4 separate regions of the Homo sapiens genome follow, and all the other regions are reported to be linked to region 1. The links are microRNA targets in miRTarBase. Many come from high-throughput screens and were not tested one by one. Region 1 holds a microRNA gene; each other region holds the end of a gene's coding sequence.
The links. Region 1 holds the annotated microRNA hsa-miR-513a-3p (UAAAUUUCACCUUUCUGAGAAGG, at 4,604-4,626, opposite strand). A microRNA usually pairs through its seed, bases 2 to 8, with sites in the 3' UTR of a target mRNA and lowers its output. Matches are read on the target gene's strand: a 7mer-m8 pairs with bases 2 to 8, a 7mer-A1 pairs with bases 2 to 7 and ends in A, and an 8mer does both.

Region 1 (7,841 bases):
GCAGCATGATTTATAGTCCTTTGGGTATATACCCAGTAATGGGATGGCTGGGTCAAATGGTATTTCTAGTTCTAGATCCCTGAGGAATCGCCACACTGACTTCCACAATGGTTGAACTAGTTTACAGTCCCACCAACAGTGTAAAAGTGTTCCTATTTCTCCACATCCTCTCCAGCACCTGTTGTTTCCTGACTTTTTAATGATTGCCATTCTAACTGGTGTGAGATGGTATCTCATTGTGGTTTTCATTTGCATTTCTCTGATGGCCAGTGATGGTGAGCATTTTTTCACGTGTTTTTGGCTGCATAAATGTCTTCTTTTGAGAAGTGTCTGTTCATGTCCTTTGCCCACTTTTTGATGGGGTTGTTTGTTTTTTTCTTGTAAATTTGTTTGAGTTCATTGTAGATTCTGGATATTAGCCCTTTGTCAGATGAGTAGGTTGCCTGTTCACTCTGATGGTAGTTTCTTTTGCTGTGCAGAAGCTCTTTAGTTTAATTAGATCCCATTTGTCAATTTTGGCTTTTGTTGCCATTGCTTTTGGTGTTTTAGACATGAAGTCCTTGCCCATGCCTATGTCCTGAATGGTATTGCCTAGGTTTTCTTCTAGGGTTTTTATGGTTTTAGGTCTAACGTTTAAATCTTTAATCCATCTTGAATTGATTTTTGTATAAGGTGTAAGGAAGGGATCCAGTTTCAGCTTTCTACATATGGCTAGCCAGTTTTCCCAGCACCATTTATTAAACAGGGAATCCTTTCCCCATTGCTTGTTTTTCTCAGGTTTGTCAAAGATCAGATAGTTGTAGATATGCGGCATATGCGGCATTATTTCTGAGGGCTCTGTTCTGTTCCATTGATCTAGATCTCTGTTTTGGTACCAGTACCATGCTGTTTTGGTTACTGTAGCCTTGTAGTATAGTTTGAAGTCAGGTAGTGTGAAGCCTCCAGCTTTGTTCTTTTGGCTTAGGATTGACTTGGCGATGCGGGCTCTTTTTTGGTTCCATATGAACTTTAAAGTAGTTTTTTCCAGTTCTGTGAAGAAAGTCATTGGTAGCTTTATGGGGATGGCATTGAATCTGTAAATTACCTTGGGCAGTATGGCCATTTTCACGATATTGATTCTTCCTACCCATGAGCATGGAATGTTCTTCCATTTGTTTGTATCCTCTTTTATTTCCTTGAGCAGTGGTTTGTAGTTCTCCTTGAAGAGGTCCTTCACATCCCTTGTAAGTTGGATTCCTAGGTATTTTATTCTCTTTGAAGCAATTGTGAATGGGAGTTCACTCATGATTTGGCTCTCTCTCTGTTTGTCTGTTGTTGGTGTATAAGAATGACAAACTATCTCTCGGACCACAGTGCAATCAAACTAGAACTCAGGATTAAGAATCTCACTCAAAGCCGCTCAACTACATGGAAACTGAACAACCTGCTCCTGGATGACTACTGGGTACATAACGAAATGAAGGCAGAAATAAAGATGTTCTTTGAAACCAACGAGAACAAAGACACAACATACCAGAATCTCTGGGACACATTCAAAGCAGTGTGTAGAGGGAAATTTATAGCACTAAATGCCCACAAGAGAAAGCAGGAAAGATCCAAAATTGACACCCTAACAACACAATTAAAAGAACTAGAAAAGCAAGAGCAAACACATTCAAAAGCTAGCAGAAGGCAAGAAATAACTAAAATCAGAGCAGAACTGAAGGAAATAGAGACACAAAAAACCCTTCAAAAAATCAATGAATCCAGGAGCTGGTTTTTTGAAAGGATCAGCAAAATTGATAGACCACTAGCAAGACTAATAAAGAAAAAAAGAGACAAGAATCAAATAGACACAATAAAAAAATGATAAAGGGGATATCACCACCCATCCCACAGAAATACAAACTACCATCAGAGAACACTACAAACGCCTCTACGCAAATAAACTAAACTAGAAAATCTAGAAGAAATGGACACATTCCTCGACACATACACTCTCCCGAGACTAAACCAGGAAGAAGTTGAATCTCTGAATAGACCACCAGGAAGAAGTTGAATCTCTGAATAGACCAATAACTAACAGGAGCTGAAATTGTGGCAATAATCAATAGTTTACCAACCAAAAAGAGTCCAGGACCAGATGGATTCACAACCGAATTCTACCAGAGGTACAAGGAGGAACTGGTACCATTCCTTCTGAAACTATTCCAATCAATAGAAAAAGAGGGAATCCTCCCTAACTCATTGTATGAGGCCAGCATCATTCTGATACCAAAGCCGGGCAGAGACACAACCAAAAAAGAGAATTTTAGACCAATATCCTTGATGATCATTGATGCAAAAATCCTCAATAAAATACTGGCAAAACGAATCCAGCAGAACATCAAAAAGCTTATCCACCATGATCGAGTGGGCTTCATCCCTGGGATGCAAGGCTGGTTCAATATACGCAAATCAATAAATGTAATCCAGCATATAAACGGAGCCAAAGACAAAAACCACATGATTATCTCAATAGATGCAGAAAAAGCCTTTGACAAAATTCAACAACCCTTCATGCTAAAAACTCTCAATAAATTAGGTATTGATGGGACGTATTTCAAAATAATAAGAGCTATCTATGACAAACCCACAGCCAATATCATACTGAATGGGCAAAAAGTGGAAGCATTCCCTTTGAAAACTGGCACAAGACAGGGATGCCCTCTCTCACCACTCCTATTCAAGATAGTGTTGGAAGTTCTGGCCAGGGCAACCAGGCAGGAGAAGGAAATAAAGGGTATTCAATTAGGAAAAGAGGAAGTCAAATTGTCCCTGTTTGCAGACGACATGACTGTATATCTAGAAAACCCCATTGTCTCAGCCCAAAATCTCCTTAAGCTGATAAGCAACTTCGGCAAAGTCTCAGGATACAAAATCAATGTACAAAAATCACAAGCATTCTTATACAAAAAAGTATTTCACTGAAAGAAAAACCATAAATACCAGTGAATATAGTACTCTTTTTGAGAAATCCTAAAAGAGATAGTACTCTTTTTGAGAAATCCTAAAAGAGATATAACTAAATTCTCTGTCTTTGTTTCATTTTACGATATCACTTATTTAAGTACACATGAATTCTCTCTAATACAGTTTTAGAAATTATATGCTAAAAAGAGTTATCACTTTGGAAATTTCTACACACATACAGTATTTCCAACGGACAGAATTTTTTTTTATTATTCAGAATGTCCCCCCGCCTCCAATGAAAAAAGTTCTATATATTCTATTAGTACAATTGTTTTAATATTGAAAAAGATACTTCAACTGATTTTTTTTACTTCCAGACATTAATGGTCTTATACATATTCATCCATTCTGAACCTAAAAAAACAAACATAAACTAAAATCCTGCCTGTAACCATATAGTAATTGTTTTTTTATAGTTTCTCTCTTTCGGTGTATATGCTGTAACCTCTATTTCCGTTGGAATCAAAATTGTATTAATCAATCACTTACTATTTATAACATTTTTAAACACATTTCCCCAATATAAGTAGCTTATTTATATATAACCTACTTCTAAAAAATGCATACTAGTTTCATGCTGCAGATGGCCTCACACCATCTGGCACTTGTCTTACTCTTGTGCACGTGCGTATTTGCCTCTTTCTCTCTCCATTAGGTTGAGTTAAGAAGTGTCAACACAAGAAAATGGGGCCGGGCATGGTGGTTCACGCCTGTAATCCCAGCAATTTGGGAGGGTGAGGTGGGTGGATCACGAGGTCAGCAGTTCGACACCAGTCTGACCAACGTGGTGAAACCTGGTCTCTACTAAAAATACAAAAATTAGCCAGGTGTGTTGGCGCACGCCTGTAATCCCAGCTACTTGGGAGGCTGAGGCAGAAGAATCGCTTGAACCCGGGAGACAGAGGTTGCAGTGAGCTGAGATGGCGCCACTGCACTCCAGCCTGTGTGAAAGAGTAAGAAAGACTCCATCTCAAAAAAAAAAAAGACAGAAAATGGGGAGAGAAGACTAGGAGATATCTCTTGAGTAACAACTCTATCATACGCTTCCATTGTTCAAACATAAAAAACAGGGAAAAAAGATAATGGAAAAGGGTGAAATATTCTTGGGTGGACTACGCTTAACCCTCCATAAATTGGTGACTGAAGGCTTTGAAAGGTATTTTAAAAGTCTATGAGAAAATGTTTTAGTCTTTGACAGAAAATGGACACTGTGGATCAGCAATGAAGGGACCTGAGAGGCAGGAGAGTCTTTTGGGAGCGCTAAAGGAGAATCCTTGCAAATGATGACTTCTTGATAAGTGAGAAAAGTTTAGGAATCTGGAATATAGCCTTCCAGCTGACGAAGAATGGCTGTGGCCTCTATCCAATGTATTTCTTATTTGAGCCAAGCCTCATTTGGCAAAAATAGATAAATTCTTAAGGAACCGAAGTGCATGCGTTTTCTCAGGAGTCCACAGTTCCTATGTATAGTCATTTAGAAGGCACAAAAAGTTCCCTGAAGTAGCCCAGCACTGAAGAGTGGGTGCACAGGATGCAAAACAGGCATCACCATGCTCGCAGCTACACCCCCATCCTCAGGGACACCACATATGCAGTGCATGCTGTACATTACCCTTCTCAGAAAGGTGAAATTTATATTTTAGTTCACATAAATGACACCTCCCTGTGAAAGGCACTGCACACTGAATGGCTGAATGTGGCATCCAAGAACAAATGCTCCCTATTCATGCCGTTTTTTTTCAAGTCCCTATAGGTGTATGCCTTGGCATGGCCACCAAGATTTATGCCAAGGGACAATGCAACTTGTAGCCCCCGGCGCTCCCCTTTTCATCCTGCCCCAAGTGAGATTTTAACATGCAGATTTTTGTTTTGTTTTTGTTTTTGTTTTCAGATGAAGTCTGGCTCTGTCGCCCAGACTGGCATGCATTGGTGTGATCTCGGCTCACTGCAACCTCCCCCTTCTGTGTCTAAGCACTTCTCCTGCCTCAGCCTCCCAAGTAGCTGGGATTAAAGGCACATACCACCGCGAATGGCTAATTAACACACAAATTTTAGGCTTAGCCAGAATATAACATTTCACTTCATCTCTTCCCCAGAGATGTGTAATCCTTGTCTGGATTATCCCATTAGTTTTCGCGTTAATTTGCTTGTCTCATTAAAAATCCTCAATATCAGGCCAGGTGCAGTGGGTCACACATATAATCTCATCACTCTGGTAGGCTGAGGCTGGTGGATCATCAGAGGTCAGGATTTTGAGACCAGCCTGGACAACGTGGTGAAATTCCATCTCTACTACAAATACAAAAAATTAGCCGGGTGTGGTGGTGGGCAACTGTAACCGCAGCTGCTGAGGCAGGAGAATCACTTGAACCCGGGAGGTGGAGGTTGCAGTGAGCCGAGATCATGCCACTGAATCACTTGAACCCGGGAGGTGGAGGTTGCAGTGAGCCGAGATCATGCCACTGCACCCCAGCCTGGGCAACAGAGTTAGTTAGACTCTTTCTCAAAAAAAAAAAACAAAAAAAAACTATATATATATATATGTGTGTGTGTGTGTGTGTGTGTGTGTGTGTGTGTGTGTGTGTGTGATGTACACAAATAATCATGAGCTGAGGCAAATTAAAAGACCTGGATTCTTCTAGCTCTGGCCCTTGATAGCATGTAGAAGTCAGACCACATGATCGTCAAGACCGAGTGTTTCTATGTACCATTCTCATTCATCTACTAAACATAACCCCTGAAAGACAGACAGAGAAGCACATAGCTCAGTGTTAGTGCTGAGTCACGGTCAAGGAGCCATAGTTCACTGAACAGAATGATTCTAAATATCTCAAGCATTTTACTGCATTTTTTGAATTCCATGAAAAGCAACCAAAGTTAGATTCTACAGAAATATTTATATATATCAATCAATCAATCAATCAATTTAGCTTTTCTCTTAAGTATTTGGGCCCTTGAGCTATCTCCCCAAAAAGTTCTCAAGGGGAAAAAAATACACAGACACAATACTCCCTCCTTCAAACACCAGTACAGGTACTACTTCTCTTCCTCTGCATCACCCACCCCTCAGTAGCTTCAAAGGAGTCTTTCCAGCAACCTGGCACATCATAGCAGGAGATTCTAAGACCCACTGCTCCATGAAACCACATACACAGACACATATACGCCCAAGTAAACAATATTAAAAAGAATGAGAATACAACAAAATATGAATACAAAAAAACTAACCATAAACAGAATTGATAAGCCATCGAAAGAACCCTAGCAATACACAATGCAAAGTTCCAACAACATATGTGCAAATTAATATGCAAATTAAAATATAACCGAAATCACACAGTGAAATCCAAATAACAACAAAAAGAAAATACAAAATTGCAAGCAATGTACGTAAAGAAATACCAATCAAAACACCAATGACCAAGAGCATGGCAAATCTGAAAACAAATTCAAACAAACACATATAATCCCAAAGGAGCCAAAGTCAAACAAACAAAGCAAAACCATACACATGAAATAAACTGATAAGAATAGCAAAAGCAAAACAAAAACAAAACAGAGATCCAACCTCAAACAAAAACAACATAACAAAATCCTCATGCTACATGCCCCGTGCACACACAAATGTATGGGCACATACACCAAAGTGCACACAGATACATGTATTACTCCCCCCATCACCATATAAACACAAACAAATGTGCTAGAACACATGCTAAAAACTCACAATCACCAACAAATATATCAGGGTATCTGAGCCTCAAAGCCCAAGGAAATCCTATGAGTGCAAGAAGGATGGAAATAGATACGATGAAGGGTAGCCACATGTAGTTGAATGGTAATACTATTAGGAAAGAAAGTAGAGTAGTTTTCTTCTATTTCATTGTAACCTACATTTCCCATCAAGTTCTTGAGTTGGGGAGGGGCATGTGGTTGTTTGGAGATGGGAAACAAACTCAAATTACACAACCCATATTTGCCAACACTTGACTATAATTTGATAGGGTTTACCTGAAAGGAGGCATCAAGCTCTCTCACATTTTTCAGCACAGAAGTGTAAAAGACTCACTGCTCCAGTCGTGTCTGTCTGTCTCTTTCAGTCTGGCTCTGCTTGATTGTCTTTCTCTTTCTCTTTCTCTTTCTCTCGTAACAGCCATAGTTTAAGAAGAGATATCTTGAAAACACGGAAAGAGAAAAGTCAATACAATATTTCCTAATTTTTTAAGAGGTCAGAGAAGGGAGTTACTGTGTGGCCTGGAGCAGGTGATTCTGACTACCAAGGGAAAATTGGAGTACTACTCCACAATGGAGGTAAGGAAGAATATTTCTGAAATACATAAGATGTCTCTTAGTATTACTATGCCTTGTGATTAAGGTCAGTAGAAAACTACAACAACCCAATCCTGGCAGGACTACTAATGGCCCAGACCCTTCAGAAATGAAAGTTTGGGTCACTCTACCAGGTAAAATATAATGGCTGAGGTGCTTGCTGAAGGCAAAGGGAATACAAAATGGGTAGTGAAGAAAAGTAGTTGTAAATACCAGCTAACACCAGATGACAGTTACAGAAATGAGAATTGTAGTTCCCATGAGTATTTTCTACTTATATTTTTATTAATATACTTCTGTGTTTTCTTGTCTCTCTTATCCCCTTATCATGTAACGTAAGGTGTACTGATATTATATCATAGTTATTAACCGTTGTTAACTTTAAATAATCATAGTATTGATGTTATGGAACACCAAGGAGAAGAGTAAACAAACAACACTCCAGGACTTTATCTCCTCTTCTGGTGAAGTGGTTCATGAATTCTGGGTTGTATAAATGGTAGTTGTATCTTATTAAATGA
Region 2 (7,841 bases), not on the chromosome of region 1:
TAACAGCTAAAGGGCTTGGCAGTTTGTCCTCCTAGACTGTAAGCCATTTGTGGGTAAAGATTGAGTCTCATTGGTGTTGTGTAATTCTCTGGGTGTTTTTCATGAGAAAAATTCCACATTTTTTTTCGTTTGGTTCATTTCTTCATTCAACAGATATTTACTGAGTGTTTATGCCAACTACTGGACTGAGGAGGAATAAAATACAATTCTTGCATTGAAAACAGATTGATAAATTGACTCAAGCATATTAAATAAAGCAATTCTGGGTACATGGGATGATGATCTTTGTCCCTGTGGGAAATTGATTAGAAGCTATGCAGGAAATGACTCCTCAAATAATACATGTATTGAGAAAAATCTCCTACCGGCTGATGCCTGGACTAATGAAAATTTAATTACTTAGGAGATATGTGGGTGGTTTGCCTGAAAAAGACTTAGCGGTCAGTCGTTGAAGGCCTGGCAGACAGTCCTCTGAAAACAGAAAACTAGGAGATTCAGGAGAGCAGTAGGTTTAGGAAGAGACAAGGGAAGGGCTGACTAAGGCAGGTCTTGATGCTGCATGGAATCATCAGTTGAAGAAGCTCAAAAGACAGCAGCACTGTGTTGGGACACTTGGAGCTTAGGGGAAGAGCTTAGAGCAGGGAAATTGACAGAAGAATTATGGAAGTCATCATTGGTATCTTGGGGAGGAGCCATAAGGCTAGTTCCAACCTTAGACTAAGGGAACGGAGTCCCAAACAGAAACCACATAATTTTTTCCATGGCTGGAATGGCTCTAAGGAAGTTGTTGGTTTGATATGCAAAGCTTGAAACAATTCTAAAGATGTACATTTGCTTGACTTTTTTTAAACACTGTGTTTTGCAAATCTTTTGTACCCAAAGAGTCCCTCATATTATAACAGAGTAGCTGGTGTGCTTTAAGTGAATGACTGGGCCCATGCTTCTAGAGAGGATACAATGGCAAAGAGAGGGGCCACAGCAGGGCATGGAAGTGTCCAGAAATCCAGAGGAAGTCTTCAGAGAAAAAATGCTTCATCTCCTCAGGGGTGACAGTGGAAATCAGCTCAATGCCACATTTACTAAGTGCCTACTAGTATTATAGTTAATGTTTTCAACAACTTTTTCTTTCTTTTTTTTTGATTCGGAGTCTCACTCTGTGGCCAGGCTGGGGCGCAATGGTGTGATCTCAGCTCACTGCAACCTCTGACTCCCTAGTTCAAGTGATTCTCCTGCCTCAGCCTCCTAAGTAGCGAGGATTACAGGCATGAGCCACCACAACTAGCTTATTTTTGTATTTTTAGTAGAGACGGGGTTTTCACCATGTTAGCCAGGATGGTCTCAATCTCCTGACCTCGTGATCCGCCCGCCTCAGCCTCCCAAAGAGCTGGGATTACAGGCGTGAGCCACCGCGCCTGGCCTCAACAACTTTTTAAGGGCCTATGTGTATAGCTGAGACACAAAAATAAATGATACATGACAATTTGGTTTAGTAACGAAGTTAAACTTGTAAACAATAAATGCCAGATGTCATGCTAAAATTATGCACAAAGAACTCAGGTTGGTACAATAATACCTGGAGGAGGGTGTTAAGGAATCAGGGGACAGATTTATAAATGAGATTATTTTAAGTCTTGAAAGACAAGTAGGTGTTTGCCAGGTGGATAGAGTGAGGCAAGAGGGGTAGGGAATGTTGCTGTCAAAAGAAGTGTATTTAAGGTGAAAATCTTCCAGTATTAATAAAACATAGGGTTAAAGAGAAGAGAAACATAGAAAGAAAAATGAGGCTGGAATGTCAGGCAGGCTCCAGATTATAAAATGGTGTGTTTGCAAGTGCCCATGGTTAAATTTTCAGGAATTTCAAGAGACAGATGCTAAACTCAGTCATTCTTAGCAATAAGGTTATATTAACTTACTCTTAAATAAGTTATATTACAAAGAAAAGTTACTAAAAATGAAGCACTTCCTGATTTTTTTGCTACATTTTACTGTTAGCTATGTTGAGGATATTTGCGTTTATTGTCTCTATATGGTGTAAATACTATGTGATGGTGTGCTACTGGGTATTTTCTTCCAGCTTTGCATTCAGAGATGTCATGATGTAGTTTAAAACCAGCCAGGGCAGGAATATTTATGCTGTGAATGTTAGCAAATGCTACAAATCAGGGCTTCCACCCCACCACCAAAAGCCAGTTGTTAAACTGGCTTTCAGCAACTGGTTTTTGTTTGTTAAACCAGCCTTTCATGGACTCACATATCATGCAAGAGTTTGAGCTTTTTCATAGAGAGAGAGGATCATCAATCTGATTTGGGTAAAGGAAAAGGAGACAGAATGACTCACAAGTTTGACTTGTATAACAGAAGCAATGGTGGCGCCATTTATTTTAAGAGGACTCATAGGTGGGGAGAGACATAAAGCAGAAAAGATAATAAGGTTTGGATTTACTGCATTTGGGAAGCCCATGGTCCATCCCAGTTCATTAGGCAGTTGGTTTTATGGGTCTGGAGCTCAAGAGTCTAGATTGTAGGTATGTAGTTGAGTCACCTGCAAGCAGGTAGTAGTTTAAACCATGAACATGGGTGATGTTCCTCAAGGTGAATAAGTAGCAAGAGAAGACTGCCAAGGCCAGAACTCAAGGAGTATTAACATTATAAGGTGGGCAAGGAGGAGGAGCCAGTAAAGGGGTTGATATAGCATAGTCAGAGGTGTCTGAGGACAAACAATGTCAAAATAAAGCTTCTGACCTTGGTCATCCTTTGAGAGAAGGAAGCTAGGATATAAACTGAGAATTTCAAAGCAGCAAGTGGTACCAAAAAGGCATGGATAGAGTACTGTTCACAAGAGAGCCCAGAGGACCCAGCAACAAACTTCCTGAAAAAGAGAGATGGGGATGAGTAAGGAAAGGATTCTGAGAGACTGACTTTTGAGCTTCTTCTTTAGTAGAAGTTTACCTGCAAAACCCTGAAAGCCTAGGAAAAGGGGAAGACAAAATGGGAATGTATATTTTCCCCAAAAGATACATTTGGTTAAAAAAAATTGCCTGCAATTTTCTAGGTATATTCTCTAAATACACCAAAGCATCACATTTTTTTCATCCAACCATTACACATCTCCACGATTGTTTCTAAACTAAGAAGTACTTGAGATCTATATTTAGAGGATCTTAAAAAGGTATATTGAAATTCCACCCACCTCAACCCCAGAATATAAAAATTCTTTAGATTTAACTGTTCCAAATTTAATGAGTATTTGACATATTCGCTTTGGGGACTATCCTGGGAATAGTTATGTGGCAAGTAATTCTTTCAGCTTTCTATCTCCATATTTTATAAAACTCAGTGTTGCCCAGAGCTTTTTTCTTCTCATTCTCCAGAGACGTTTCTATATTGGCTGTTTGGAGAATGGTGTACTTTTTAGATTTGTATCTGGAAATGCCTCTAATCTCAACAGATGTAGCAAAAGCAAAATAGATTACGTGGCTTCACTTAGCCTTCTTTTCAAATGGTATTTGCCTTATCCCTTTCTGTTGTGCATACTGAGATTTAGAGGGGTCGTGTCACTTATTTTAAATAATGACTAAGTTCCAGGGGCTAAGGCACTGAAGGGCTCCCAGTTATTCCTCCATTTTACACGTCACTAAATACATGGGATGGAACGGTTTCAGAAAGGAGCTTTGGGGAAAACTAGAAAAAACAAATAATTAACAGCGCACTAAAATACACTAAATCTCATGGATGCAAACTCATTTGGAATTTGCGATGTTAACCTCTGCAAAGCTAGATTAAATTTTAAAAGATTTTCCTAACTTTAGGTAATAAAGGTTCCTTCTCCTTTTTTGTTTTAAACCATTAGCATTTGAAAGAATACCATACAACATTCCTATTTGGGATCTTGAGGTCAGGAAGGTCAAATCCAGTCCAGTTCAGTTCAGCTTTAGAAGACCTACCCACTTCCTTGCCTCCACCTTCCTTCCTATGCCTTCATTGATTGTGTCCATCAGTCTCTGAAGGGACTGTGTTCTGTACATAATGAAAAGCAAAAAGATACTGCCTCCTGTGTCATTGTTCTAAATGTATTGTGCTTATTTAGACCTTACACCGCATTATCTAGGTTTATGTTATTTTACAGAAGAGACTGAGACTCAGTGAGGTTAACTGCTCAGTCACAGAGCTAGTAAATGGTGAGCCAAAATTAAAAACCAAGCTTGTCTCTGACCTTAACCATTATGCTATACTGTCTCTACATATGTATTATAAATCTCAAATCATATTTATTATTTTGCGCAGAAAACCATCATTGGCAAGGGCCCTTGCCTTCATGTTCCTAACAAGCCTCACACCTAGCAATGTCTAGGCAAAGTAAGTCCTTGAATAGCCAGTGCCATCTTCTATCAACCCACTCCAGCACCAGAGACTGTGGCACTCATAGATGATTTATCTTTGCTGTTTGTAATTTTTGTCCAGTATAAAAGATAACCCATGGATTGTAGTTTAATTGCCCCGTAGGACATAAACCAGTTTTGTATCTGTGGAGAGGCCCTCACCACCACCCCCAAATTTGAAGATTTGCTAGGAAGACTCATAAGACTCCACATACAGTTCTGCTCACGGCCATGATTTATTACAGTGAAAGGATACAAAACAAAATCAGCAAAGGAAAAAAGACACATGGGGTGAAGTCAGGGGAAACTAAGTGCAAGCTTCCAAGAATCCTCCGCCAGTGGAATCACAGAGGATGAGCTTAATTCTCCCAGCAACCAGTTGTAACAGCACTTGTGAAACACTGTCAACCAGAAAAGCTTGTTAGAGACTGAGTGCCTGGGGTTTTTACTGGGAGCTGGTCACAAAGGTAGTCTCTGCCTGGCACATACCAAAATTCCAGACTCCCAGAAGGAAAGCAGGTGTTCAGGAGAAACTATATTGTTTTACAGTTTAGATATAGTAAGCTACTTTGATCAGTTCTGGGAATGGTGGAAGCCCCCTGAACTCCAAGTTCCCAGATGCCAATCAAGGGCCAACCTTGTAAAGCAGGTCTCTAAGGTTAAGTAGTCAGGTCGGCTTCATTAACACTTTTTTCTGCACAGCAATTTTATCTCAACATTTTTTCTTCAATGCCCATAAATACTCAGTTTCTTGAATTGTACTTTGAACCAGGTTTACTATCTGCTGGTTTCCTCATTAATGAGTCGAATAAGTCTTCGACACATGCTCATCTTATACACATGTATATATATGAGTCATGTTGTCAACTTAAAAGGTTTGACAGATAATAACCTAATCAAGCTAAATAAAGTCCAGCCAAAATTAATTAATAAAAAACATTAACTAAATAATATCAAGGCTCAATCTACACCTCACTTTAGTTATTTAGGAAAGAAAAAAAATAACCTTTATACTAGCATTTCACACTTTCTTACTGACTTTAGAACGTCTTCTGATTTAGGTGGCAATCACTTGCCTAGTTGTACTTAGGGCAATATTAATAAAATAATGAATGTTTCTGCAAGAAATAATATATAAAGATTAATTTCCTCTTTAATTTTACCAATCAGAATATTAAAAATACTACATCATTGTTTTAGATGAAATTCCCCATTTAAATATATTATACATAAGCCAAATTTTAGAAATAGCTCCTTGTATCACTGTACAATTTTGGGCCTTTAAAAAAAAAGCTCAATTTTAAGTTTGAATATAATGTGCAGTTTATATAACATATATATTATATTATATATACTTTATACATTATATAAAGTATTATCCTTATTGTGAACTTTATTATGCTTCTGAAATTTCTCCATCATTTCAAATTTACTTCAATAAAAATTTCCCTATATTTTGTGAATTGCATTTTCAAATCAGAAGTAATGTTACAAATTTCTGTCTATAATAAAAAACAAAATATTCACGCTTTATTAATAATCCTAATTAGAAAAGGATGCAATTAAGAGCTGGCATAGCTAACATAAGCATAAGAAAGGTAAACTTTTCTTGAATTAAAAAAAGGAAATACTTTAATGAAAAAAAATCAAGGACAGAAGGAAGGAGAAAATTTTCTAAACAGCAGCTGGTCCTTCTTCACAATTTGCATTACTTATGCAAATACATCATTAAATAATACTCATCTTATATTTACAAAATAGAGGAAAGGGAAAAACCTAAAGTATCAGGATCTTTCATTTCTTATCCCTCTTCCAATCTTCTGGATACATTAGTTTACATACCAACTAAACATGTGATACTAGTTAACTATAGTTGAGAGCTTATCAATTAAGTCATCAATAGTGTAAACAAGAAGTTGAATGTCTGCTTTTTCCCTCATTCGGTGATCACTGTGTTTTCGGAGGATGACATCCACATCTGTGCTGAGTACTCGATCGGCAACCTGCATTGATGTATGCCAAGGTACAATGTCATCCTTCATGCCATGGAGCAATCTTATGGGGCAGTTCACAGGAATTGGGCTATGTAACAAGCAGTGATGTTCAGCTTCTTTAATGAAACTGTACTGAACGTTATAAACTCCTTCTTCAGAGTATTTTGATGGCATGCTCCACACACCTTTCATCTCTACTTCCTTTTTTAGCTATTGGAAAAAGAAAGAAAAATAAAAGTATTTGTGACTTTAGGCAACATTAACACATGCAATAGTTTTAAGTAATCTAATGAAAGCAGTTCTTGAATAAGAGGATAGAGATAACAAAAGTATAACAATAATAATTATCAATAATTACTACATGCAAGGTACTGTGATGGGTATTTTATACATATTATTCCATAAGATTCTGATAATAATTCTGTTATTATTCTATTTTTATAAAAGAGGATATTATGGTTTAGATAAATGAAATACTGTGTGCAACAGTTCAGGGCTAGGCTACTAACTGTTATGGCTAAGACTCAAACTTAAATTTAAATTTATTTAATTTTATCATACACTATCTCAAATCAGATGTTGCTTCACCCCAACTGAAAAGAAAAATGAAGAGGGAGAAAAGCACTACAATTTCTTGGAATCAGTCCAGGTATCATTCATATTTAAATAAAATCAAATCTTAGAATAAACATTGTTTAGATTTCAAAATTGTAAACCTAAAAGTGCTTATAAGTAGCTAAAATGGATATGGCATAGGGAAAGAAGAGAAAGAATCAAACACAGAACTAAGAATAAAAAAATAAGAGTAATTACATTGTAACAATCATACACATACTCATGCAATTTTAGGCTGAATGTAAAGAAATATAGTTTTTCCTTCCAGAGTCCTATAAAAGAGAAAAAATTTGATTTTTGTTCTGGATGACAAAGAAGTCTTCCACATACTTCCTGAAAGCCAAACAATAATATCTGTATATTTATTCCCTTAAAATGAAATATACATGTCCTTTGACTTTTTGAGAACTCTTATTTTTTATATAATTTATCTTAATTTTTCTAAAAAAATTAGAATTTTGTATAATGAGTAACATGCAGTCATTATAGAAAACATAAAAATAATTAAAGAAATAAATCACCCATAATCCTATCTTATGGAGAGAAAAACCATTAATATATGGCTTATTTCCTTCCAATATTTGTCTATATGTGTTTTGGTTTTTGTGTAATATGTAAAATACATACATATTACACATTCATATACAGTTTTCTATGCTGTTTATTTAGTACATATATTTCTGGGTTTAAAAAATTCTATGAAAAGGTTTTAAATGCTGCACAGCAGTCCACCATAATTGACTTAATTAGTTTGACCATCTCATACTGTGGTATTGTCATGAACACTTTTGAGCATAAAAGTTTATTTATATATAATAGATTATTGGAAAGATGATCACAGCTTAAAACTAAA
Region 3 (7,841 bases), not on the chromosome of region 1:
AGAAACTTTGTAGTAGTTGGTACCACCAGAACTCATTGATCAATATTAAAATCACTGAAAGTGGAACAATCAGACATCATGTTCCTCCTGAAATGATGTAAGAGAAAGTGTATAGCATCACCTATGGAGTATTCTTGGGGGAAAATAAATGAACCAGGATCAAATCCAGCTTCTAGGTCTAACTGGACACTCTGGGGATACTCTCAGTCAAATCCTGAGTGGAGGAAATTCCACAGGACAAATAAAAGCCGAAAAGAACTAAAACGCAGGGGTAAATTTTACAGAGTAAAGGAGACACATCAACCAAATGCAATGTTGGATCTAGATTTCAACAACCAAGAAAACTGTATTTTTGAGATAGAAACAATACAGACTATTATATGATAATTAAGGAAATCTTGTCAATTTTTTGAGTGTGACAATGATGCTGTGGTTTTGTTAAAAAGATTTATCTGCTAGAGATACATTTTAAAGTACTTACAAGTGCAATGATGTAACACCTGAGATTTACTTTAAAATATTCCAGTAGGGCCGGATATTGTAATCCCAGCAGTTTGGAAGACCAAGGCAGGAGAATCTCTCAAGGCCAGGAGTTTGAGACCAGCCTGGGAAACACAGCAAGACCATATTTCTACAAAAAATTTAAAAATTAGTTGGGTGTGTTGGTGTATGCATGTAGTCCCAGCTATTCAAGCGGCTGAGGCAGGAGGATCACTTGAGCCTAGGAGTTCGAGGTTACAAGGAGCTGTGATCGTACCACTGTACTCTGGCCTGGGTGACAGAGTGAGATCCTGTCTCTTAAAAAAAAAATTACAATTAAATACTTCACCAAAAGAAACAAACAAAAAGTAAGGGGTTAGATGTATTAAGAACGGTAAAGTATTGATATTTGTTGCAGCTGGGTGATGGGTAGAGTTTCATTATTCTATTTTTGTGTATGTTTGAACATAAAGAAATGTATGAATAATATTGAAATTATTCAATATTCCATAATGAAAAGTTAACATGCCAAGAATCTCAAATTATGGTGAACACTCAGTGGGGACTGCATATTGTGAGTTATGTCTCTAGTTAGTTAACAGATAGTAGAGACCTGGAAAAGCTTGTATGTAGCCTTTTAAACATTTCTTCTCAGATACATACATGCATATATATGTATTATATAAAATACATATTCATACACATATGTGCACACACACAGGATGGCTTCATGGACATGCAACCTGTGCAGTTGCACAAGACTGTGCTTAGAAGCACCCCACACCTAATTTTTGAACGAGGGCCGTACAGTTTCATTTTGCCCTTAGTCCCACAAATTATGTAGCTGGCCATACACACACATGCACACATACCACATACCCACATGTATATATGCATATATTGTGTACATATGTATATACATTGAATATATTTAACATAAGTGTTAAGTATGCATGTGAATTTTATGTATGTATTTATGTTAAACATGTACGTATTTAAATAACATGTGGTTTAGTGATAAAAATTCCCTAAAAGGTATGTTTCTAGGGAGGCAATTATATTAAAATGGCTCTCAAAATTTCTGTGTGTGTGTGTGTGTGTGTGCATTTTAATTAGCAAATAAGGTCCCAGGCTCTTGCCCCTGTCCTCCTCTGAGTAAGAGGATACTTTTTACTTTAATTTTGAGGCCAAGAAAATATATACTCACAAATCAAAAGAAGTTGCTAAGAAATGCTATATTCATTTAATAAGAGTAGGAATATATATATCTTTTTTTTTCTTTTTTTTTTTTGAGACTGAGTTTTGCTCTTGTCACCCAGGCTGGAGTGCAATGGCGTGATCTCAGCTCACTGCAACCTCCACCTCCTGGGTTCAAGCGATTCTCCTGCCACGGACTCCCGAGTAGCTGGGATTACAGGCGCCTACCACCACACCCAGCTAATTTTTGTATTTTTAGTAGAGATGGGGTTTCACCATGTTGGCCAGGCTGGTCTCGAACCCCTGACCTCAGGTGATCCACCCGTCTCGGCCTCCCAGAGTGCTGGGATTATAGGCGTGAGCCACCATGCCCAGCCAGAGTAGGAATATTAAAATGAGGTCAGTAAAGATAAGGCTACATTCTCACTAACTGGCCACATCATTTAGTGTTTCTTTTGAATATAGCCTCATTAATCAAAACCAGATATTGTTTTTTTAAAAAAAGATTTCTCTCTACGCAGAACATTTCCAAATCTACAGAAAAGTTCAAAGAATAATACAACAAACACCTGTGTACTGTCATCTAGATTTACCAATTGTACAATGGCTAATATTTTGCCACATGTGTGCCCTCTTTCTCTCTCCATGTTGATTTTTGCTGAACATTGAAAGTTGCAGACATCATGACACACTTGGCCTCTAAATGTTTGTGCATGCATTGCCTAAAAAAACATTTTTGGCTGGGTGCAGTGACTCATGCCTGTAATCTCAACACTTTGGGAGGCCAAGGCAAGTGAATCACCTGAGGTCAGGAGTTCAAAACCAGCTGGGTCAACATGGTGAAATTCCGTCTCTACTAAAAATAGAAAAAATTAACCTGGAGTGGTGGCAGATACCTGTAATCCCAGCTACTCAGGAAGCAGAGGCAGGAGAATCACTTGAACCTGGGAGGCAGAGGTTGCAGTGAGCCGAGATCGTGCCACTGCACTCCAGCCTGGGCGACACAGTGAGACTCTGTCTCAAAACAAACAAACAAACAAAAACAAAATAAAACAAAACAAAAAGACATTTTCTACATATACTATTATCACACCTGAGAAAACAGTTATTTGGCATTGTTATCTAATATGCAGTCTATATTCAAATGTTCTCAATTGTCCCGAAGATATCTTTATAGCTGTTTGCTGGGTTGTTGCTTTCTTTTATTATTATTATTATTTAGATATGATCTCACTCTGTCACCCAGGCTGGAATGCAGTAACATGATCATGGCTCACTGCGGCCTTGACCTCCTAGGCTCAAGTGATCCTCCCACCTCACCCCCCCAAGTAGCTGGGACCACAGATGCACACTACCATGCCCAGCTAATTTTCTGATTTTTTGTAGAGATGAGAACTCACTGTGTTGCCCAGGCTAGTCTCAAAATCCTATGCTCAAGCCATCCTCCCCTTTTGACCTCCCAAAAATGCTGGGATAACAGGCATTAGCTACTGCGTCCAGCTTTTGTCTTTTTAAATATCCAGAATACAATAAAGATTCAAACATTGCATTTGGTCATTGTATCTTACAAGTCTCTCCCCTTTTTTTTTTTTTCATGACACTGACTTTTTGAGAAGCCCAAGTCAATCATCTTATAGAATGACTACATTCAGGATTTGTCTAATAATTTCCTCATGATTAAATTCCAGTTTAACACTTTGTGCAAGAAAACTAAATAGGTAAAATTCTTAAGTCACATCAGGAGGGGCATAATGTTAGGGTGTTCCACCTTGGGTGATGCTAAATTGAATCACTTGGTTATTGTGGTGACCATTGTAAAGGTACATTTTCCCCTGTATAATTGATACCTCTTCTGTAGGATTATATTTAAATCCTTGTAGAAGATCCTATTCCACAATAGCTTTTCATCCAATAGTTTTAGCATCTATTGATGAACGTTACGTGAAAAATCTATGAACTGCTCTTTATGAACACTTTTTAAAGCCTTTATAAAACTATTTTCTCTTACTGTATTTTCACTTTTTGCTTAACCTAAATTTGGCCCTTTTTAAAAATCCTAAAATCATATGGCAGTTTTAGAATGGTAGCTGGTTGCTGCTATAGTTTGCATGTTTGTCCCCCAAAATCTCATGTTGAAATTTGATCCCAGTGTTGGAGGTGGGGCCTGATGGGAGGTGTTTGGGTCATGGGGGAAGACCCCTCATGAATACATTAATGCCGTCCCTGGGGGTGGGGTGTGCTGGGGAGGAGAAGCAAGGAGTTCTCAATCTATTAGTTCCCTCAAGAGCCGGTTATTTAAAAAGAGCCTGGCACCTTCTCCCTCGCTCTCTTGCTTCCTCTCTTGCCATATGATCTCTGCACATCCGGCTCCCCTTCACCTTCCACCATGAGTGGAAGCAGCCGGGGAAGAAGCAGATGCTGGTGCCATGTTTCTTGTACAGCCTGCAGAACTGTAAGTCATATAAATCTCTTTTCCTTATAAATTATCCAGCTTCAAGTATCCATTTAAACCAATAAGAAACAAACTAAAACAATTGCCCTAAGTTGAAATTCACCCTCAGGGTCGTCTTCTAAGATGCAATTTAAATTATCTTCTCTACAGCAATTCAGGACAACAAACTAGCATACCCCATGTTCCTCAAATATATCTTCTCCAGAGCTCATGCCAGACCCCTTGTCCAGACTTCCTGGGTGGTCTCCTCTCTACTCATCTAACACCCTGGCATATAGTTGGAAGGCCCACTGGGCTGTCACTTCTAGCCCTGTGCTCAGCAGAAAGCCATCTTACCCTTCCCGATGGACTATTTTCTGTTTTTAGCTACTGCCTTACAGCACGGTTGTCTTTAAAGTGGTTGTTACAATAGATACAAAATGTATTTAAGATAAAAGGTATAACTATGCAGCAAACACTAGTGGACCTACCATCCAGCTTAAGGAAGTTACCATTACCTTTGAAAGTCCATTTCCCCAATCACATCATTCCCCTCCCTCAAAGATAACCACCATCCAGAATTTAATATTTCTCATTCCCTTCCTTCCCATTATTGTCTCATCACATTTGTTGGGTTTTTTATACAAAATGATTTAGTTTTGCATGCTCTGGAACTTTATATAAATGGAATTATTCTGCATATATTTTCTGAAAACCTGCTTTGTTCGCTTAACATTATGTTTCTGAGAGTTGTATTGTGTTACGTTATTACATTTAGCTGTACTTCAATTGTTTTCAATACTATATAGTACTCCTGTGTGTGAATATAATTTTTTTAATCCATTCTTCTTTTGATGTGCATTATGGTTGTTCCCTGTTCTTTTGGCTATTATAAACAGGGTTTTATGGACATTCTTGTAAGCACGTATGTAGGAATAGAATTGATAGCTATGTGGGTATACATGGATTCAACTTTACTAGATAATGCCAAATTGTTTTCCGAAGTGGTTGTACATCACTTTTTTTTTTTTTTTTAATGAGTACCATATTTCTCCAGCTGGCTTGTAAGCTATGTGAGGCAGAGAACGATCTTACATTTTTTTGGCCTAAAAGCGGTAGAAATTTAATAAATAGATATGAATTGATTGATTCATTAATAGTATAAAAAGAAAATTTGGGGGTGGTTTTTCCATCTTTAGAACAAAGAGATGAGGCTGGGCGCGGTGGCTCATCCCTGTAATCCCAGCACTTTGGGAGGCCGAGGCAGGTGGATTACTTGAGGTCAGGAGTTTGAGACCAGCCTGGCCAACATGGTGAAACCCTGTCTTTATTAAAAACACAAAAATTAGTTGGGTGGGTGGCACATGCCTGTAATCCAGCTACTCAGGAGGCTGAGGCAGGAGAATCACTTGAACCCAAGAGGCAGAAGTTGCAGTGAGCCAAGACTGTGTCATTGCACTCCAGCCTGGGCAACAGAGCGAGACTCTGTCTTTAAAAAAAAAAAAAGAATAAAGAGATGAGCCAGGAAAAAGTAAAATGTAAGAATGTTTTTGAAGCAAAAAGAAGAAAACCTTTCTGTTTCTGCAGAAAGATTAGTAAAAATAGTAAAAAATTAAAGGAAACATTAAAATAAAAGGTAAATATCTATTGATATTCCCTAGCAGATTTTAGATAATTTAAGGAAAACTGCATATCAGAAGCAGGATACTTTTTCAGAAGGGCTCTAACATGTGTGTCGTTCATTTTTCTCTGGGCTTTTCTTCCACACAGTCAAGGTCCTTAGTATTTCAGATGTGTTAGGTCGATCCTCAGGTTTCTTTGAGAGTAATTTCTGTAGAAGAGTTTTCTGCAATGACAGTGAGAGTCAATAGTAAGAAATAAAACATTGAAATAAATAAAATTCTGATGATTTTCAAGTGCTTACTTCTTTTTTATCAAATATATCTGAGATGATGCCATCCCGTAGGTCTGTGAAAAACTGGAAAAAAAAATGATAGGTGTATATTAGGAAATTATTTACTTGGGAGGAAAGACAGAACTAAAGGCTGAGGAATACCTGAAATGTAGGATATTTCCAGATTTTTTGGGAAAGTCTCTTTAGCCAAGAAGCAAGCAGGATTCCCTCTCTCCTACACTACCCCCAATCTAATAACCATCCTTGCATTACGACATGAAGTGTTAAGTGCATCATCTTTACAATCTCCCTTCATGCATTTTGGAACCCTAAGTGATAGGTACTTCTAACTGTTTTACAGAGGATAAGGTTATTGACTCCAGGAAAGTTCCCTTTCCTGAGCTTAAGAGTAGGATATCCAGCTGGGTGCAGTGGCTCACACCTGTAATCCCAACACTCTGGGAGGCCGAGGCGGGTGGATTGCCAGAGGTCAGGAGTTCGAGACCAGCCTGACCAACATGGTGAAACCCCATCTCTACTAAATACAAAAAAATTAACCAGGCATGGTGGTGCACGCCTGTAGTCCCAGTTACTTGGGAGGCTGAGGCAGGAGAATTGCTTGAACCTGGGAGGCAGAAGTTACAGTGAGCCAAGATCGCGCCATTGCACTCCAGCCTGGGCAATAAAAGTGAAACTCTATCTCAAAAAAAAAAAAAAAAAGAGTAGGATATCCACTTGCCTACTGCCTTTAGTGACTCCCCACTGTCTAAGCAAGAAGGTCCACATTTTTTCCTCAAGTTAGCCCAACCTATCTTTCTAGCCTCACCAACCACTACTTCCTTGTAACTTATATACTCCAATACAACTTACACTGCCTGCTGTCCCCAAATACACTCTGTACATTCCCGCCTCCATGCTAGAATCAACTTTTCTGTTTTGGACTATTAGAAGCCAACAGATCCTTCAGAGCCCAGCTTAGATGTCTCCATGAAACCTAAGTCCCTACAGCTGGAAAGATCTCCCTCCCAGCTGCTTCCACAGACTTCATGCCTTCTCCTAAAATGCTTATGGCATTCTCTTATATTATCTTCCCTTTTAGAAAATAAGCTCCTTGAGAACAAGGCTTTATTCATTTATTTATTTAGAGATGGAATGTCACTCTGTCACCCAGGCTGGAGTGCAGTGGTGTGATCTTGGCTCACTGCAACCTCCGCCTCCCAGGTTCAAGCGATTCTCCTGCCTCAGCCCCCTGAGTAGTTGGGATTACAGGTGTGCACCACCACACCCAGCTAATTTTTGTATTTTTAGTAGAGATGAGATTTCACCACGTTGGCCAGGCTGGTCTCGAACACCTGACTTCAAGTGATCTGCCTGCCTTGGCCTCTCAAAGCTGGGATTACAGGGGTGAGCCACCGCGCCCAGCCAAGGCTTGTTTATTTTTGCAACCCTTACAGCACTTAGCACAGTGTCTTACACAAAGCAGTCAATCAATAAAATGTTACTGACTGACAAGTCTTACAAGTCTTATGAGATGTACTACCTTCCAGGGAAGATCAAAGTTTTTGGTCTTTAAGAAAGTGTTTGGTCTCTGCCAAACCTTGAAAGACAGAAAATTCATATTTCATTTGCAGTCAGATACTAATATGCTCAAGCCCATCCTCACGTGAGGGCAAGAACTGTCTGCAGCAGCACTCTGAAGGTGGTAGTCAGTAATTTTTCTTGTTTAATTCTTTCTTTGAGATAATTTTACCTTTGATGTTTCAAAAGCAGTGTCACATACATGAAGAAGTTCAGCAAGAATTAGCCCCAAAGCGTAGAGGTCCACTTCCTTTCCATAGT
Region 4 (7,841 bases), not on the chromosome of region 1:
CACAGTGGCAGTATCTTAGTCAAAAAAGTTTATGGGTGACACATTTCTAAATTGATTAATTGAGCAATATTAATTGAAAGTCTGATTTATACTAGATACTGCTGTAGAGGCTGGAGATGTAACAGTGACTAAAACTACAAAAATCTTTGTTTTCCTGGAGCTTACGTTCTAAATGAATAGAAAATGTATTTTATTATGTATAACAGCTAACATTTATGGGGTGGCTTTTTATGTGCCAGATATTATGCTAATTATGTTATATATAGCGTCTTATTTTATCCTCAGGATAACCCTATGAGATTGATTCTATTATTAACTCCAGTTTATAGACAAGGATCAGCCATAGAGACCTTAAGTAACTTGCCTGGTTTCTCAGCTTCACACAAAGACAAATACAGTAATGTGGTTTTAATGTTATATTCAGAAACTCACATTTCTTGATGTGTACATTTTTGGCAGCACCTGAGAAATAGGAAAAATTTCTAAGATTACAGAAATACCTAGTTGCAAAAATGACTGAGTTGGCTTTTCCAGAAAGATTCCACAAATACAGGACAAATTTTACATAAAGTTTGTCTTTGTATTTTATTGATATTACTATATTGATAAAGCAATTTAAATGTAAACTTTTGGTAGTGGACATGTTTCTCATTTGCCTTAGTATTTTGCTAGTAATGGGCAGATAGAAAGTAAGAATGAGGATTTCTCCATAGCGTTGCATAAATAGTATTTAAAGCTTTGTAACTATGTAAATAGTAATTTAATTTTTATAATATGCTTATAGTAGATATACTTTTCTTTTAGAAAGTTGTCTTTTTGCCATCTTTCATTCATTAAAATCCACAGATGTTCTTTAATTTATTACAAACTTTGTTTTTCTTACAAGTTTTCAATAAAGCTGTAAGGTGTGTCTTAGGAATTGATCTTAAGTTGATTTGCTTTGCTTTCTAGACTCAGAAGTCCCTAGAGAAAGTTCACATGAAGATTCTCTTCTAGAATGGTTGAACACCTTTCGGCGCACAGGAAATGCAACTCGAAGTGGACAAAATGGGAACCAAACTTGGAGAGCTGTGAGTCGAACAAACCCGAACAATGGAGAGTTTCGGTTTAGTTTGGAAATCCACGTAAATCATGAAAATAGAGGATTTGAAATTCATGGAGAAGATTATACAGACATTCCACTTTCAGATAGTAACAGAGATCATACTGCAAATAGGCAACAAAGGTCAACTAGTCCTGTGGCTAGGCGAACAAGAAGCCAAACCTCAGTGAATTTCAATGGTAGTAGTTCCAACATTCCAAGGACTAGGCTTGCTTCAAGGGGGCAAAATCCAGCTGAAGGATCTTTCTCAACATTGGGAAGGTTAAGAAATGGAATTGGGGGAGCAGCTGGCATTCCTCGAGCTAACGCTTCACGCACTAATTTCAGTAGTCACACAAACCAATCAGGTGGTAGTGAACTCAGGCAAAGGGAGGGGCAACGGTTTGGAGCAGCACATGTTTGGGAAAATGGGGCTAGAAGTAATGTTACAGTGAGGAATACAAACCAAAGATTAGAGCCAATAAGATTACGATCTACTTCCAATAGTCGAAGCCGTTCACCAATTCAGAGACAGAGTGGCACTGTTTATCATAATTCCCAAAGGGAAAGTAGACCAGTACAGCAAACCACTAGAAGATCTGTTAGGAGGAGAGGTAGAACTCGAGTCTTTTTAGAGCAAGATAGAGAACGAGAACGCAGAGGTACTGCATATACCCCATTCTCTAATTCAAGGCTTGTGTCAAGAATAACAGTAGAAGAAGGAGAAGAATCCAGCAGATCCTCAACTGCTGTACGACGACATCCAACAATCACACTGGACCTTCAAGTGAGAAGGATCCGTCCTGGAGAAAATAGAGATCGGGATAGTATTGCAAATAGAACTCGATCCAGAGTAGGGCTAGCAGAAAATACAGTCACTATTGAAAGCAATAGTGGGGGCTTTCGCCGAACCATTTCTCGTTTAGAGCGGTCAGGTATTCGAACCTATGTTAGTACCATAACAGTTCCTCTTCGTAGGATTTCTGAGAATGAGCTTGTTGAGCCATCATCAGTGGCTCTTCGGTCAATTTTAAGGCAGATCATGACTGGGTTTGGAGAACTGAGTTCTCTAATGGAGGCCGATTCTGAGTCAGAACTTCAAAGAAATGGCCAGCATTTACCAGACATGCACTCAGAACTGAGTAACTTAGGTACAGATAACAACAGGAGCCAGCACAGGGAAGGTTCCTCTCAAGACAGGCAGGCCCAAGGAGACAGCACTGAAATGCATGGTGAAAACGAGACCACCCAGCCTCATACTCGAAACAGTGACAGTAGGGGTGGCAGGCAGTTGCGAAATCCAAACAATTTAGTTGAAACTGGAACACTACCCATTCTTCGCCTTGCTCACTTTTTTTTACTAAATGAAAGTGATGATGATGATCGAATACGTGGTTTAACCAAAGAGCAGATTGACAATCTTTCCACCAGGCACTATGAGCATAACAGTATTGATAGTGAACTAGGTAAAATCTGTAGTGTTTGTATTAGTGACTATGTAACTGGAAACAAGCTCAGGCAATTACCTTGCATGCATGAATTTCACATTCATTGTATTGACCGATGGCTCTCAGAGAATTGCACTTGTCCGATCTGTCGGCAGCCTGTTTTAGGGTCTAACATAGCAAACAATGGGTAAGGTGATGGGATCTACTCAAATACTGTTTTTTAGTAGAACTGAATGTTCAAGCATTGTTTTGCTGAGTTATTTGTGATTAGCTAACCAGGATGAAAAATAACAGATTATATATAGTTTGAACTATTTTTCGTGTGCTTTTTTAAACTTGTTAAAAAGAAATTTATATAAAATTTAAAATACAAATGTTAAATTATCCAGAAATACAGAATAGTTAATATTGCTAGAACCAAATAACCTCTAAAATGTTTTTATTTTGGTAATTTTGTCATGCTAAGCACTTTTGTATCTGCACAATTCAGTAGGTTAAGAATCAATCTTCTTTTTCTTAATAGTACAGCAGACTTTAGCTTCAAGTTTCATAGGCTTAGTACTTATATCTAGACATTTGTGTCTAAATAAGCTTTTCATTAACTTTTTATTTTAAGGACAGTATCTTTTCATGAAAGAGTATTTGGCTGAATGTTTGCTATATATATGTTACTTGAAATGTTAAATTTAATATGCAGCATACCATAGGTGTATATATAGGTATATAATTTTAAGGTTAAAATATTCAGTCTACAAGTTTGGTTCTTATTTAAGCTTTTGGGCTAATACTGCATATGGCACAATGTTTAATATTGGCAAGTTCATCTCAGAGAAAGGGGATTCAGATATAATTTTAAAGTAGAGATAATTTACTGAAGCGTCTCTGACAATCTAACTTATTAGACAGCAAGCAATATATAATACTGAAAAAGTATTCAGAAATGGAAAATTTACATCATATAGGTTATTTAACTTGTGTTCAGCCTTTTTGTAACTTTTTTGAAAGTGCAAACAATTCTTTGGATTATTAAATAAGGTATACAGTATGCATGGTTTCTCAAATTTAGTTTTAAAATCTAAAAGTCTATAAAGAATCAGATGCATAGGCAATATGTTAAGTTCACTTGGAGGCTAAAAATCTCCAGTGAAAACAAAACGAAAACCTTTAAGAGAATGTAGAGTTTATATAAACACAAAGTATGCATTGAAGATCTGTTTCTACCAATAAACATTAAAACAAAGACTGTATGTGAACTATGTTTTTCTGTTGTTCCACTGTGGTTTATTCACCCTCCACTAATATTTCATACTAGATGCCAGGCAGTGTTATGGGATAGAGTATTTCCCAGACGACAGACAAAAGTCCCTGGCTTCATGGAAAAGACATATTTGCTCTTAGAAACTGAATATCAATTGATAAAGTGAATTATTATTCTTACTTTCATATTTGCTTATTAATATATGACAGGATTTTCTTGTGGTGATACTGTTTGGGCAAAATCACAAGAACAGTACTTAGGCCAGATTCTGTGAGATTTAGAAATATCTCCACATTTAATTTTCCTTTCTGACTGGTGACTATGTTCAATTCATTAGGTTAGATGCATGCCCAGGAATGTTAAGGAGTGCATTTACATGGAGTAAAAGGTTTTCATAAAAGTTGTGACTTTGTTTGGAGTAAATTATTTATGTAGGTCAGTTTGAGGATCTAAGACTGGGAAGGTTGATTTCAATCAGATTTGAAGGCTTTTCATAGCAAACTAAGGACTTTTTATCTTACCTTATAGAGATGTTAGATGTCTCTTGATTTTAGTGGCATAGGGTAGGATCATTTTTCATGGCCCAGGAGGATGGGTCTACTACAGCATATAGAACACAATGGAATGGAGAGAGATGGGAAGCAAAGAAACCAATAAGAGAACTATTGTGATAAAAGACATCATTATTTTTATTACCAGTTGTCATCACTTATCTACCCTAGAATGGTGGCAATGAAACTGAAAGGAAAGAGAAGGGTGTAAAAATGTTGGTTTTTAAAAAAAGACGTTGTTTGGTCTCTAGTTCAGTATGAAGAGGTGGAAGAGAGAATCACCTAGGTGGAGGAGGGAGAGGTAGCACAAATTAGTTACAAGGTATGCCAATTTAAACATCTTGAACATAGCTTAATTCATACATCTCACTTATTTTAGTGTTAAAATTTGCCCCCAGTATGAGGAGAGACTAAATCCAGCATTTTTATTTTTATTTTTATTTTTATTGAGACAGAGTCTCACTCTGTTGCCCAGGCTTGAGTGCAGTGGCACTATCTCGGCTCGCTGCAACCTCCGCCTCACAGGTTCAAGCAATTCTCCTGCCTCAGCCTCCGGAGTAGCAGGGATTACAGACATGCGCCACCACGCCCGGCGAATTTTCTGTATTTTTAGTAGAGACAGGGTTTCACCATGTTGGCCAGGCTAGTCTGGAACTCCTCACCTCATGATCCGCCCACCTTGGCCTCCCAAAGTGCTGGGATTATAGGCATGAGCCACCATGCCTGGCCCGTTTATTTCTTATATGGGATATTCCTCAGGAAGTTCTACCTCCCTGGGCCTGATGCAATAGGAAAATTAGGAGGACAAAGGAAGAGGGGAATGAAAAAAGTAAGGATACAGAAAAAATAAAGGCATATTGATTCTTTGACTTAGTCCTTTGCAAGACATGATAATGTTACTAGCATGGAAAGAAATCCCATATAGGCATTTGAAACAGAAGTAGATTGTGTTTTGTATGGAAAATTCCCTGAAGGCAGCAGTACAGCTTAATGAATTTCATAAATTGATAACCCAGTTGGGAATAAAAAAGGATATTCTTTAATATTTTCATTCATTTCCCAATAAACAAGGCTGATGACAAATACAAAGGCCCATTAATCTATTTATAGCTTCTATTTAGCAATGATTATACCCTTTGTGGTTCCAATATAGAGAAGAACAAATAGTTAGAAATTCTTCATTTGAATATTATGTTCCATGTCAGGTCCGTAGAGCTTGTTCTTTATAGTGTGGCTGTCTGGCAAACTTCTATTTCTAGATTGCCAGCTTCCAGCTGCCCTCTCACATAGTTACAGCCTTTTACCCTGTTTTCTCTTTTCCTAGATTTTTTTAGTTTCAGCCAGCATTATGACCCTTACTTAATTATCACTCTTACGAGGTTATTTTCCTTTCAATATTTAACATGAATTCATAATTTAAACCTCTGAAGCTCTCCTTGAAGTATTTTTGCTACCTAACTTAGTAATTGGCAGAGTTTAGGGAGTCAATCACGTGGCTATTTGCCTCCAAAGCTCCTGCTTTTCCTGCTATGCTGCATTCTGGAGAAGTGGAAATGCCTTGGGAAGTTTTCAGTCTAATTTAATTCCTCCTAAAGATATTTTTCTAATTTTACAACTTTGTTCTATCATATGTCTGATTACCCTAATTTCCATAGGCAAATACATCCTTCTGTCTCATGAATGGAGGAGAAGAGTTGCCCCTAAAAGATATAACAGAATCTGTATTATAAAGATGAATCCAGGAAAGAGATGAATGAGGCATCTGAAGATGCTGCATTAAGGGCCAGAGTTGACAAGCTCAGTCTGAGGCATTTTCATGTATATTACTCCCAGACAAGAACATCTAATGAACTTTTAATCTTCCTGCATCTCTCCATTGGAATAATCTGTGGCCAGGGGAGGAGAAACTAGAAACAGCACTTTACATGAAAGCCAGGGTGTTAATTCACTTTGCAGTAGTAGGTGGCTCACTTGGGGTCTCTCATTCAGTCCTGTGCAACACTGGAAATCAGAGAGCTGGCGTATCTGTATTAGGAGATGATTTCCCAGGAAGCCAGATTCATCTATCGTTGAGAACATCATCCCACGTTTCAAAAGATGATGATGGCTGTCAGTGGTGATTTTTTCTTTAGTCTCTAGAGACAGATTGCGAGTTATTTTCAGTGAGTATGAGTGTGTTAGTCCCTGAATATATTTGCCCTTTTGATCATTGGAGATCCATCATTTCAGCAAGTTTTGTTTGAGTATTAAATCTCTGAAGACTCTGAGTTGGCCCCTATATATTTTTTATTCCTTTTTAAAAATAACTTCACATTTCTTCTGGAAAATAATGACTTTCAGACATATTTTTCCTCTATTGTGTTAATGTCTCATTTGAAGATGGAGTAACTTCTTGGCTGCCCAGTATATATATATATATCTCACATCTTCTCACACATTTAATTGTAAAAATGCTCCTACTTAATCCTAATCCAGCCACCTTCTGTGCAATTCCAAATGTGCTGTGCAATTCCAAATGTGCTCACCTTCTCCCCAGTGGGTAACAATCCAAAATCACATGCAGCTTCTGTACTGTGAAGTGACACAATTTAGCCCCTCTGAGTTCAGGTTTTCTAGGTAGTGTCAATTCCTCCATTAGCTTGGATCTGATCAGGTTTGTGACTTCTCACCATTCTGCAGATTATGGGATAAATGATAAAAGTAGCTTCTCCTGCCTACCCGATACAGTGAAATGGAATAAAAATCAAACAAAAACAGGGAAAGAAGTGCCATACATTGATTACTGGTACAGATTATATAATAGCATATCTCGCTGAGCAAGCTTAGCAGGATGAATGATAGAAACAATGGGTCTCATGAGCATTCTCTTTGTTGCCTCACTTCTCTGGATGTAGAATAAATTGTTGGAACCACCTTCAGAAAAGGCACCAAGGGAGGATTTCCTACTGGTGCTTGTGGTGGTGATGGCAGGCAGGTGTTTGAGGAGATGCTGGTGAATGGCTTTGATCTTGGCATTTCAATGTTGGGGCTTGGTTCAGGGTCTACCATAATGCCGGACAGTCACAGGTCTCTATACAGCAGGCTAGGGACTTTTTGACAATACACTTTCCTTAAAACTGTAACTAGTTTCTTAACAATTGTATTTAGGATCTTGTATCCAATGCCAGAAATCTTGTCTTGTTCTCAATTTGCTAAAGGAATAGCCATGGTCCTCACAACCTTTAGGTCTTTTGTTGGTTTGTTCTTTTTTAGCATTTTGTCAAGAGGATCTTTCTATGACTCTAACTCTTAGCCACATAGAGTTTGCCTCTGGAATAGTTAGGAGTCTTTCTTTAATCTTCCCTTGAATGTCACCCTTGTCCTTTCATTGCATTTCAGACCAGTGCATTGTACGATAGAAGGCATCTTCATTTTTGTCTGTAGGATCGAGCAGCATGACCTTCTTTACTCCAACCAATTGGGATCAGATTATGTGACCAGTCCATTGCAACCATGTAACTTGG

Region 2: miRTarBase lists ABHD10 as a target of hsa-miR-513a-3p. Seed matches in the 3' UTR shown: 7mer-m8 at 5,872-5,878, 7mer-m8 at 5,821-5,827 and 7mer-m8 at 5,787-5,793.
Region 3: the mRNA of EIF2AK2 is a reported target of hsa-miR-513a-3p. Seed matches in the 3' UTR shown: 7mer-A1 at 3,710-3,716, 7mer-m8 at 1,556-1,562 and 7mer-A1 at 273-279.
Region 4: miRTarBase lists RNF6 as a target of hsa-miR-513a-3p. Seed matches in the 3' UTR shown: 8mer at 2,876-2,883, 7mer-A1 at 2,888-2,894, 7mer-A1 at 3,212-3,218, 7mer-A1 at 3,475-3,481 and 7mer-A1 at 3,588-3,594.

Annotation. Positions count from the first base shown.
Region 1 is chrX:147,221,257-147,229,097 of GRCh38, forward strand. It overlaps MIR513A2 (microRNA 513a-2), which reads right to left and starts at 4,696; the gene lies at 4,570-4,696. All of the region lies in intron 2 of LOC105373347 (periphilin-1), which reads left to right.
Region 2 is chr3:111,990,119-111,997,959 of GRCh38, reverse strand. ABHD10 (abhydrolase domain containing 10, depalmitoylase) reads right to left here. Exons shown (of 5, transcript NM_018394.4): 5 at 4,592-6,583. The coding sequence ends at 6,239. Among named protein-coding and RNA genes, the nearest start is that of TAGLN3, 4.9 kb to the left of the region's middle.
Region 3 is chr2:37,101,442-37,109,282 of GRCh38, forward strand. EIF2AK2 (eukaryotic translation initiation factor 2 alpha kinase 2) reads right to left here. Exons shown (of 17, transcript NM_001135651.3): 15 at 7,753-7,841; 16 at 6,033-6,086; 17 at 1-5,954. The coding sequence ends at 5,832. Among named protein-coding and RNA genes, the nearest start is that of GPATCH11, 21 kb to the left of the region's middle.
Region 4 is chr13:26,208,703-26,216,543 of GRCh38, reverse strand. RNF6 (ring finger protein 6) reads left to right here. Exons shown (of 5, transcript NM_005977.4): 5 at 952-3,769. The coding sequence ends at 2,720. Among named protein-coding and RNA genes, the nearest start is that of RNF6, 9.7 kb to the left of the region's middle.